Linked DNA regions of Homo sapiens: region 1 is linked to region 2. The links come from fine-mapping of genetic effects on gene expression. A gene starts in region 2. The other region holds a variant in brackets. All regions are shown on one strand. Distances are between the middles of the regions. Region 1 overlaps GP6 (glycoprotein VI platelet). Region 2 holds the start of RDH13 (retinol dehydrogenase 13).

What was found. PIP is the estimated chance that this variant, and not a neighbour inherited with it, causes the effect.
Region 1: its variant is fine-mapped to the expression of RDH13 in whole blood (INTERVAL, PIP above 0.99).

What each region holds. Positions count from the first base shown.
Region 1 is chr19:55,022,629-55,027,998 of GRCh38, forward strand. It overlaps GP6 (glycoprotein VI platelet), which reads right to left. Exons shown (of 8, transcript NM_016363.5): 4 at 4,950-5,234; 5 at 2,590-2,643. All of the region lies in intron 2 of GP6-AS1 (GP6 antisense RNA 1), which reads left to right. Among named protein-coding and RNA genes, the nearest start is that of GP6, 13 kb to the right of the region's middle. RefSeq lists an enhancer at 4,989-5,370. The variant TGTTG/T (reference allele first, on the strand shown) is at 2,249.
Region 2 is chr19:55,060,937-55,066,306 of GRCh38, forward strand. RDH13 (retinol dehydrogenase 13) reads right to left here and starts at 2,212. Exons shown (of 7, transcript NM_001145971.2): 1 at 2,032-2,212. The coding sequence starts at 2,096. RefSeq lists an enhancer at 555-1,522 and a silencer at 5,222-5,370.

The sequences.
Region 1 (5,370 bases), 38 kb before region 2:
GTTTCTTAAGCTGATAAGCAACTTCAGCAAAGTCTCAGGATACAAAATCAATGTGCAAAAATCACAAGCATTCCTATACACCAACAATAGACAGGCAGAGAGCCAAATCATGAAGGAACTCCCATTCACAATTGCTACAAAGAGAATAAAATACCTAGGAATACAGCTAACAAGGAAAGTGAAGGACATCTTCAAGGAGAACTACAATTCACTGCTCAAGAAAATCAGAGCGGACACAAACAAATGGAAAAACATTCCATGCTCATGGATAGGATGAATCAATATCGTGAAAATGGCCATACTGCCCAAAGTAATTTATAGATTCATTGCTATTCCCATTGAACTATCATTGACATTCCTCACACAATTAGAAAAAACTATAAAATTCATATGGAACCAAAAAAGGGCCCATATAGCCAAGACAATACTAAGCAAAAAGAACAAAGCTGGAGGCCTCAGGCTCAGACTTCAGACTATATTACAAGGTGATAGTAACCAAAACAGCATGGTACTGGTACAAAAACAGACACATAGACCAATGGAACAGAATAGAGATCTCAGAAATAAGACCACACATCTACAACCATCTGATCTTCAACAAACCTGACAAAAACAAGCAATGGGGAAAGGATTCCCTATTTAATACACCTTGTTTTGATTTTGATTTCAACACAGCGTGTGGTATTTGCATGCCATGTGATACAGTTTGAATATGTGTTCCCACCAAATCTCATACTGGATTATGATCCCCAATGTTGGAGGTGGGGGCCTGGTGGGAGGTGTTTGGATCATAGGGGTGGATCCCTCATTGCTTGGTGCTTTCCTTGCAATAGTAAGTGAATTCTCACAAGATCTGGCTATTGCAAAGTGTGGCATGTCCCCCAGTCCCAACTCTCTCTCTCTCTTGCTCCTGCTCCCACCACATGAGACAGCTACCCCCTCTTTGCCTTCTGCCATGACTGTAAGCTTCCTGAGGCCTCCCCAAAAGCAGAAGCCAGCCTTCTGCTTCCTATACGGCCTTCAGAACCATGAACCAATTAAACCTCTTTTCTTATCAATGATCCAGTCTCAGATATTTATAGCAGCACAAAATCGGCCTAATATAGCATGAAATATTGCTCAGCAATCAAAAGGAACACATCATTGATACATACAGCAGCTTGGATGGGCCTCAGGGGCATTGCACTGAGTGACAAAAGGATATCTCAAACGGTTGCATACTGGATGATCCCATTTACATCAGATTCTAGAAATGGAAGATTATAGAGATGGAGAACAAATTAATGGATACCAGGAGTTAGGGATGGCAAGGGAAGGAGAAGGGTGTAGGTGTGAATATAAAAGGGTAGCCCAAGGGAGGCCCTTGTGAGACGGAAGAGTTCTGTACAGTGACTGCGGTGATGGTGACGCGAATCTACAACTGTGACAAATTGGCATAGAACTAGACACCTACTTTATGCCAATGTCAAATTCCTGGTTTTTATGTTGTACTCTAATTACGTAAGATGTAACCATTAGAGGAAACTGGAAAAAGAGCACATGGGATTCTTCTGTTCTATCATTGTAGACTTCCTGTGACTCTAGAACCATTTCAAAAGAGAAAGTTCAAAAATTCAGTCAGAAGCACACGCACACATATGCACGCATGCACACACACACATATGCACGCATGCACACACATATGCACGCACACACACATATGCACGCACACACGCACATGCACGCACACACACATATGCACGCACACAGTATGTGACCATCTTCCATGTCCCTGCCCACTAGGCATAATAGCCCTCACTCTGCCCTCAACCCCGCAAATCTCATCCTTATCAACCTCGGCTCTTTCCAGCATGTTTCTCCTGCCTTGGTGCTTCACTCTGAGACACAGGGAATGTTAGACACGCCCAGCCTCCAGCCTAGCGTATGATATTCTTAAAGTGCAGGCCGTAGTCTGGTACACCGTATTCAGCTGAGATGTTTGTGAAAGTGGAGGGGATAACACGCCTCACACAAAACTTACCGCAGTGGTTCTCAAAGCAGCATTCTGGAGCCATAGCATCAGCATCACCTGGGAACTTACTAGGAATGAAAATGACTGGATTCACCCCAGACCTACTGAAGCAGAAGCCCTGGGGGCTCAGAAATCTATTCTTTAAGCCTCCAGGTGATTCTTATGCTCATGGAAGTTTGAGAACCGCTGATCAATGCATTCAGTGACTCAGAAACAGAGTCCCGGACTCTACAGGTT[TGTTG/T]GTTGGTTGGTTGGTTGGTTGGTTGGTTAGTTTGTTTGTTTTTGTCACCCATATTCAACCAGCTGGACTCCACAGTATAGCAAGCCACTCCGATTATTCTTCTGCATGTTATATGTGATAAACCATCCACCTAGAGTAGGATTGGGGGCAGCATCTTAACATCTAACTACTTAGGACACCCACCCTGTTTACAGGCAGAAATAAAGGATTTTTAAAACAAAGCAAATCTGTGAAAGAACCAACTGAATTAAATCGAGAAGTCTAGGCAGAGAGGAGAGAGAGAAGGGGTCCGTGTACCTCATACGCTGTGCACCAGAATGGACCCTGCAGAACCTACCTGCTACCGGGGAAGGTGGTTCTGTTGGTAACCGGCTGGGGGTCACAGAGGTTCCTGGGAAATCAGAAAATGAGATAAATCTGTGCTCTGTCGCTGTGGGTCCTGAACAAATAACGAAACATCTCCGTGACTGAGTTTCCTCACCGGAAAAATGAGCCTAAAGTAGCTTACATCACTGGACTGTTGTGGATGTTAATAAGCATTTGAGCTGGGTGCAGTGCCTCATGCCTGTAATCCCAGCACTTTGGGAGGCTGAGGAGGGCAGATCACTTGAGGTCAGGAGTTCAAGCCCAGCCTGGCCAGTATGGTGAAACCCCGTCTCCACTAAAAATACAAAAATTAGCCAGGCGTGGTGGTGTGCACCTGTAATCCCAGCTGCTCGGGAGGCTGAGGCAGGAGAATCACTTGAACCTAGGAGGCAGAGGTTGCAGTGATCTGAGATCGCACCACTGCACTCCAGCCTGGGTGACGCAGTAAGACTCCATCTGAAAAAAAAAGGCTTAGCCAGGCGTGGTGGCTCACACCTGTAATCCCAGCACTTTGAGAGGCCGAGGCAGGCAGATCACCTGAGGTCAAGAGTTCAAGACCAGCCTGGCCAACATGGTGAAACCCTGTCTCTACGAAAAATACAAAAATTAGCTGGGCATGATGGCAGGTGCCTGTAATCCCATCTACTCAGGAGGCTGAGGCAGGAGAATCGCTTAAACCCAGGAGGTGGAGGTTGCAGTGAACTGAGATCACTCCACTGCACTCCAGCCTGGGTGACAAAGTGAGACTCCCCCCAAAAAAAAAAAAAAAAAAAAAAGCAGCAGCATTTGTAAAGCACACCTGGCACATTCTGGGCTATTAACAAGGAAATGCATGCAGCTCCCGTCCACCTTTTTCAACCTCAGTTCTATTTCTTCTGGATTCCTGTGTCCTACCCCTCACTGTGACCCTGGGGGCAAAACAGATTTTTCTACCAAAAACTAAATGATGTATTTTGTTTGATTTAATATGACATTGTTAAATGTACTGATCAGTGGCGTTGGGTATGTTCACATTGTGGTACAATATGTTGACCTCTAGAACTTATTTTTCTTGCAAAACTGAAATTCTGTGCCCATTAAACACTAATTCCTTCTCTCTCCTCTTTCTGGCCCTTAACAACCACCATTGTACTTTGTGTTTCTACAGTGTTGACATTAGATACCTCCTTTGACTAGAATCATACAGTAGTTGTCCTTTTGTGACTGACTTAGCATAATGTCCTCAAGGTATATCCATGTTGTAGTATGTGTCAGAATTTCCTTCTTTTTTAAGGCTGCATAATATTCCATTGCATGTATATAACCACATTATGAGGTATGCTGCTCTTTTTTGAAAGAAACCCCCTTTAAGAATGGTAGTCAAGTCCGACGCGGTGGCTCACGCCTGTAATCCCAGCACTTTGGGAGGCCGAGGCGGGCAGATCATGAGGTCAGTTCAAGACCAGCCTGACCAACATAGTGAAACCCCGTCTCTACTAAAAATACAAAAATTGGCCGGGCATGGTGGCAGGCACCTGTAATTCCAGCTACTCGAGAGGCTGAGGCAGCAGAATCGCTTGAACCCGGAAGGCGGAGGTTGCAGTGAGCTGAGATCGCGCCACTGCACTCCAGCCTGGGTGACAGAGTGAGACTTCGTCAAAAAAAAAAAAAAGAAACCTCCATTCTCCCAGCTGCCTGTAGCCCAGGGCTTCCTGCCCTCCCACTTCCTTCCCACCTCTGGCCCCGCCCCTGCAGCCCAGGGCTTCCTGCCCTCCCACTTCCTTCCCACCTACGGCCCCGCCCCTGCAGCCCAGGGCTTCCTGCCCTCCCACTTCCTTCCCACCTACGGCCCCGCCCCTGCAGCCCAGGGCTTCCTGCCCTCCCACTTCCTTCCCACCTACGGCCCCGCCCCTGCAGCCCAGGGCTTCCTGCCCTCCCACTTCCTTCCCACCTACGGCCCCGCCCCTGCAGCCCAGGGCTTCCTGCCCTCCCACTTCCTTCCCACCTACGGCCCCGCCCCTGCAGCCCAGGGCTTCCTGCCCTCCCACTTCCTTCCCACCTCTGGCGCCGCCCCTGCAGCCCAGGGCTTCCTGCCCTCCCACTTCTTTCCCACCTATGGCCGCGCCCCTACAGCCCAGGGCTTCCTGCCCTCCCACTTCCTTCCCACCTACGGCCCCGCCCCTGCAGCCCAGGGCTTCCTGCCCTCCCACTTCCTTCCCACCTACGGCCCCGCCCCTGCAGCCCAGGGCTTCCTGCCCTCCCACTTCCTTCCCACTTATGGCCCCTCCCTTGGAATGGCCATCAGGACCTATAAAGGCTGAGGAAGAAAGGTTTGGTCTGCACTACCCCTACCTGTGACCACAAGCTCCAGGGGGTCGCTGGGGGCTGACCACAGGTATGGGTCCCTGCTGGAGAAGCTGTAGCATCGGTAGGTTCCGCTGTGGGCGGCGGTCACCGTGATGATGGGAAAACTAGCCCTGTACCATCTCTCGGGATTCTTGTAGGGCGCAGGGTCCCCTTCCTTGTACAGAGCAAATTGGTCAAAGCCATACCGAGTCTGACACTGTAGGGTTACGTCCCCTCCTGACGACACCGCCGGGCCGGGCTGGGCTGAGAGCGAGGGTTTGGCAAAAACTCCTGGGAGAAAAAGAAAGTCTGATGTTGAAGGCAGGAGCCAGCATCTCAGCTGAGACTGGGGAGGTCCCCACACCTGCCTAAGAGCTGGGGAGCTTTTTGGCTGTATCCCTCCCAGAGAGCGCACTCCCCCACCCAA
Region 2 (5,370 bases):
TCGGCAGGTCAAGAGTCCAAAACATGTCTCACTGGAATAAATCAAGGTATTGGTAGAGTCAGGTTCCTTCTGGAGGCTCTAGGGAAGAATCCACTTCCAGCTCCTACAGACCGCCACATTCCTCCACTCTTGGCCCCGCCTCCATCTTCAACCTGCATCCTCACTGGAACCTCTCCTTTATTTATTTATTTATTTACTTATTTATTTTTGAGACAGAGTCTCGCTCTGTCGCCCAGGCTGGAGTGCAGTGGCTCAATCTCAGCTCACTGTAACCTTCGCCTCACAGGTTCAAGCGATTCTCCTGCCTTAGCCTCCTGAGTGGCTGGGATTACAGGCACATGCCACCACACCTGGCTAATTTCTTTTGTATTTTTAGTAGAGACAGAGTTTTACCACGTTGGTCAGGCTGGTCTCGAACTCCTGACCTTGTGATCCGCCTGCCTTGGCCTCCCAAAGTGCTGCGATTACAGGCGTGAGCCACCACACCCAACAACCTCTCCTTCTATCTTCCATCTCCCCTCTGACTGAGCCTCCTGCTCCCTCTTATAAGGACCCTATAAGACTACAAGGCAGGACCGGCACAGTGCCTCACACCTGTAATCCCAGCACTTTGGGAGGCCAAGACAGGAGGATCACTTGAGGTCAGGAGTTCGAGACCAGCCATGGCCAACATGCTGACACCCCATCTCTACTAAAAATACAAAAATTAGCAGGGCTTGGTGGTGCACGCCTGTAGAGTCAGCTACTCGGGAGGCTGAAGTGGGAGGACCACCTGAGCCCAGGGAGGGTGAGGCTGCAGTGAGCTGTGACAGCATGACTGCACTCCAGCCTGGGTGACAGAGAGACCCTGTCTCCAAAAAAAAAAAAAGACTACATGATAATCATAAGATCCTTCACTTGGCCGGGCACGGTGGCTCACGCCTGTAACCCCAGCACTTTGGGAGGCCAAGGTGGCCAGATCCCCTTTGGTCGGGAGCTCAAGACCAGCCTGACCAACATGGAGAAACCTCGTCTCTACTAAAAATACAAAATTAGACAGGCGTGGTGGCACATGCCTGTAATCCCAGCTACTCAGGAGGCTGAGGCCGGACAATCGCTTGAACCCGGGAGGTGGAGGTTGTGGTGAGCCGAGGTCGTGCCATTGCACTCCAGCCTGGGCAACAACAGCGAAACTCTGTCTCAAAAAAAAAAAAGATGCTTCACTTAACACATCAGCGAGAACCTCTGACACGTGAGGTAATGTCGTCACACCTTCCGAGGATTAGGACGTGGACCCCTCTACGGAGTCACGACTCTGCCCACCACACCCATGTCCCACAGAGGCTAACGCTGGCAACAAGATAGTGTCCAGCAACAGGAGGCTGAGCAGGTAAACAGCACTGCACCCACAGGAGAGAAGGGCACCATGCAATACAGTGGCCACCAGCCACAGAGGCTAATTTTTAAGAAAGTTTAAATTAAGTAGGCTGGGCGAGGTGGCTCACGTCTGTAATCCCAGCACTTTGGAGGCCGAGGCAGGCGGATCACCTGAGGGCAGGTGTTTGAGACCAGCCTGGCCAACATGGCAAAACCCCGTCTCTGCGAAAAATACAAAAATTAGCCGGGCGTGGTGGCGCACGTGTGATCTCAGCTCCTGGGGACGCCAAGGTGGGAGGATCACCTGAGCCCAGGAGGTCAAGGCTGCAGTGAGCCAAGATCGCGCCACTGCACTCCAGCCTGGGCGACAGAGCCAGATTCTGCCTTTAAAAATAAACGAACAAATAAATAATACAAAACAACAAAATAAAGAGTTTAAAAGTCTGGAAGGAAAGCAACATTTACAAGGGCCCAGGCTCGCCCTTCCCTCCGAGTGACCTTGGGCCGGTGACCTGGCCGGCCAGAGCGCAGGTTTGCCCCACTCCGGGCGGGCACTGCGGGTCGGGAGCTACGGGGCCTGGACCCGGGTGCGAGGGGCGGGGGTCTCCGCCGCCTTCCCGGCCCCTGCGCTGGGGGCCCGCCTTGACCGCGCACGCGGGGCTAGAATGTACTCACTTGAGCAGCACGGCGGCGCCTGCTACCGTGCCCAGCGCCGACAGCGGCAGCAGGTAGCGGCTCATGCCGGGCCGGGGACAGGCGTCAGGCGTCAGGGGTCGGCGCGGAGCTTGCTGCACACCAGCCGCCTGGGTAGCTCCGAGGAAGAGCGCGCGACGCAGCCACAGGCGAGCGGAGGCGCAGGCGCGGCTGGGCCCGCGTCCGGAACTGGGCTGCGAGGGGCGGGGCGCGGGCGGAGGGGGCGGGGATCCTAGGGACGGGACCTATGAGCATCGGTCCTGAGCGCTGTCACAGCTGGGATTGGTGGTTTCAGGAGCCTGTGGGCGTGGCTAGTCCGGGGGCGGGGCCTATGGTTTGTTCGAATGACGTCACACTTGCCGCAGCGTATAAGGCGCTACGCAGTTCTGGAGTGAAATAGGTTCGAATCCCACCACTGTCAATTCCAGACTGTGACCCTCTGTGTGTCTTTCAACTATATCAGCCTATTCCCTCATCTGGAAATGTGTGTTTACCTTCTTCATAGACTTTTGGAGATAATTTGAGAATTTCCATGCACAGAAACAAGGATCTAGTAGCCTGTGGGTACCCAAGCTCCTGGGGTCCTGCAGGAGAAGGCGGCTGGGGGCCTGGACTCCTGGGTCTGAGGGAGGAGGGGCTGGGGGCCTGGACTCCTGGGTCCAAGGGAGGAGGGGCTGGGAGCATGGACTTCTGGGTCCGAGGGAGGAGGGCCGGGTGCCTGGACTGCTGAGTCTGAGGGAGGAGGGGCTGGGGGCCTGATTCATTCCCAAATTATCAGAATCTCATCCCCATGTCTGGCCCTGCACAGAGATATCTTCCCTGAACTCTGCCTGAACTACCTTTCTTAGATTGAGTATTGCACACACTCCTGCACTTACCTGTCCATGTTTGTCACCCCCACCAAACCGGGATGCACCTCTGGGCACCTGCTTCCCCTTGCACTGCTCACAGCGAGTGTATCTGATCACCACCTCCTACCCCTGACTGTGCCTGAGGTGCCAGGAGCAGACACCGCTGGAAACAGGGAAGAATTCAACCCAATCTAACTAGGAGTAAGTTTTCTTCCTCATCAGATGAACTGTCATCTTCTTATATGAGCCCTGCCATAATGGAGATTATACAGGCAGGAAGAGCTATTTTAAGACCTTAGTCAATGGCCGGGCACGGTGGCTCACGCCTGTAATCCCAGCACTTTGGGAGGCCGAGACAGATGGATCACGAGGTCAGGAGATTGATACCAGCCTGGCCAACATGGTGAAACCCTGTCTCTACTAAAAATACAAAAATTAGCTGGATGTGGTGGCACTCACCTGTAGTCCCAGCTACTCAGGAGGCCGAAGCAGGAGCATCACTTGAACTCGGGAGGTGGAGGTTGCAGTGAGCCGAGATTGCCCTACTGCATTCCAGCCTGGCGACAGAGTGAAATTCTGTCAAAAAAAAAAAAACCTTAGGCCTGTAGACCTTAAGCTCTCACCATCTCAAACGTATTAAACCAGTTACACAATGCCAAATGCTGTATAAGAGGCACTTGGAGGAGTCAAATTCATAGAGACAGAAAACAGAGTGGTGGCTGCAGGGGGCTGGAGATGAGATTGGGAAGTCACAGGATTTGTTTTTGTTTGTTTGTTTGTTTTGTTTTGTTTTTTGAGAGACAGTCTCACTGTGTCACCCAGGCTGGAGAGCAGTGGGCGATCTCAGCTCACTGCAACCTCTGCCTCCTAGGTTCAAGCGATTCTCCTGCCTCAGCCTCCCGAGTAGCTGGGGCTACAGGCACGTGTCACCACACCCGGCTAATTTTTGTATTTTTAGTAGAGACGGGGTTTCACCATGTTGGCCAGGTTGGTCTCAAACTCCTGACCTCAGGTGATCCACCTGCCTCGGCCACCCAAAGTGCTGGGATTACAGGCATGAGCCACCGCACCCGGCCGGGAAGCTGTTTTTTAATAGATACAGAGTTTGTTTTGCAAAATAAAAAAAAGACCTGAAGGTGGACGGTGGTGATGGTTGCACAACAATGTGAATATACTTAACATCACTGAATTGTACACTTAAAATGGTTAAGATGGTACATTTTACTTTATGCATAGTTTACCAAACTAAAAATAAAGAAAAATTTTAGACTGGGCATGGTGGCTCATGCCTGTAATCCCAGCACTTTGGGAGGCCAAAGTGGAGAATAGTATGAGCCCAGGAGTTTGAGAGCGGCCTGGACAACACGGCAAAACCTTATCTCTACAAAAAATACAAAAATTAGCAGGTTTGGTGGCACGCATCTGCACCCTCAGCTACTTGGGAGGCTGAGGTGGGAGGTCTGCTTGAGCCCAGGAGGTCAAGGCTATGATGAGCTGTGATTGTGCCACTGCACCCCAGGCTGGGTGACAGAGCAAGACCCCATCTCAAAAATAATAATAATAAATGTTTACATTTAATAACATGGGCAATTGGTTCAGATGTTCATTTTCTCAACCTTGAAAAAAAAACAACACTGTTTTTCCCTGTCTTTTTCTCCTTTTCTGTAAACTGAAATCCTAATATCATTGACTTCCAGGACAGAGATCAGCAAACTTTTTCTACAAACAGCCAGATAGTAAATAATTTCAGCTTTGTGATCCACACAGTGGCTGTTGCACCTCCTCTGCCAGAGGAGCTGGGAAGCAGCCACAGATGATGTGAAAACAAGTGAGCACAGCTGTGTTCCCATAAAACTTTATTTATAAAAATAAGCAGTGCGCCACAGTTCGCCAGCTCCTGTTTGAGAGTCTCTCTCCGATGCCCAGGCTGGAGCGCAGTGATGCAATCTCAGCTCACTGCAACCTCTGCCTCCTGGGTTCAAGCGATTCTCCTGCCTCAGCCTCATGAGTAGCTGGGATTACAGGCGCTCGCCGCCACACCTGGCTGATTTTTGTATTTTTAGTAGAGACGGGGTTTCACCATGTTGGCCAGGCTGGTTTTGAACTCCAGGCTTCAGGTGATCCACCTGCCTCAGCCTCCCAAAGTGCTGGGATTACAAAGCGTGAGCCACTGCGCCCAGCTACCTGTCATTGAATTTGGAAGGATGGCATGAAGTCATTCATAACAAGGACTTAATCCATAGTAAGTGCCAGAACATTGCTGGCTGTTAATATGGTTATTATAAAGAGAACAATGCATGCATATTCCTCCTCTGAGGATCTCCTACCTGATTCCCAGACACACCCAAGGGAGTTAGAACATCTGTTTGGACTCCAGGTGGGCTGTCCACGCCTTTACCATTTTCCTGGTTGTTAACATGTTCCTGATCAGCACTGGGTGCTGTCCCAGGTGCTGAGAGGATTCTCCCAC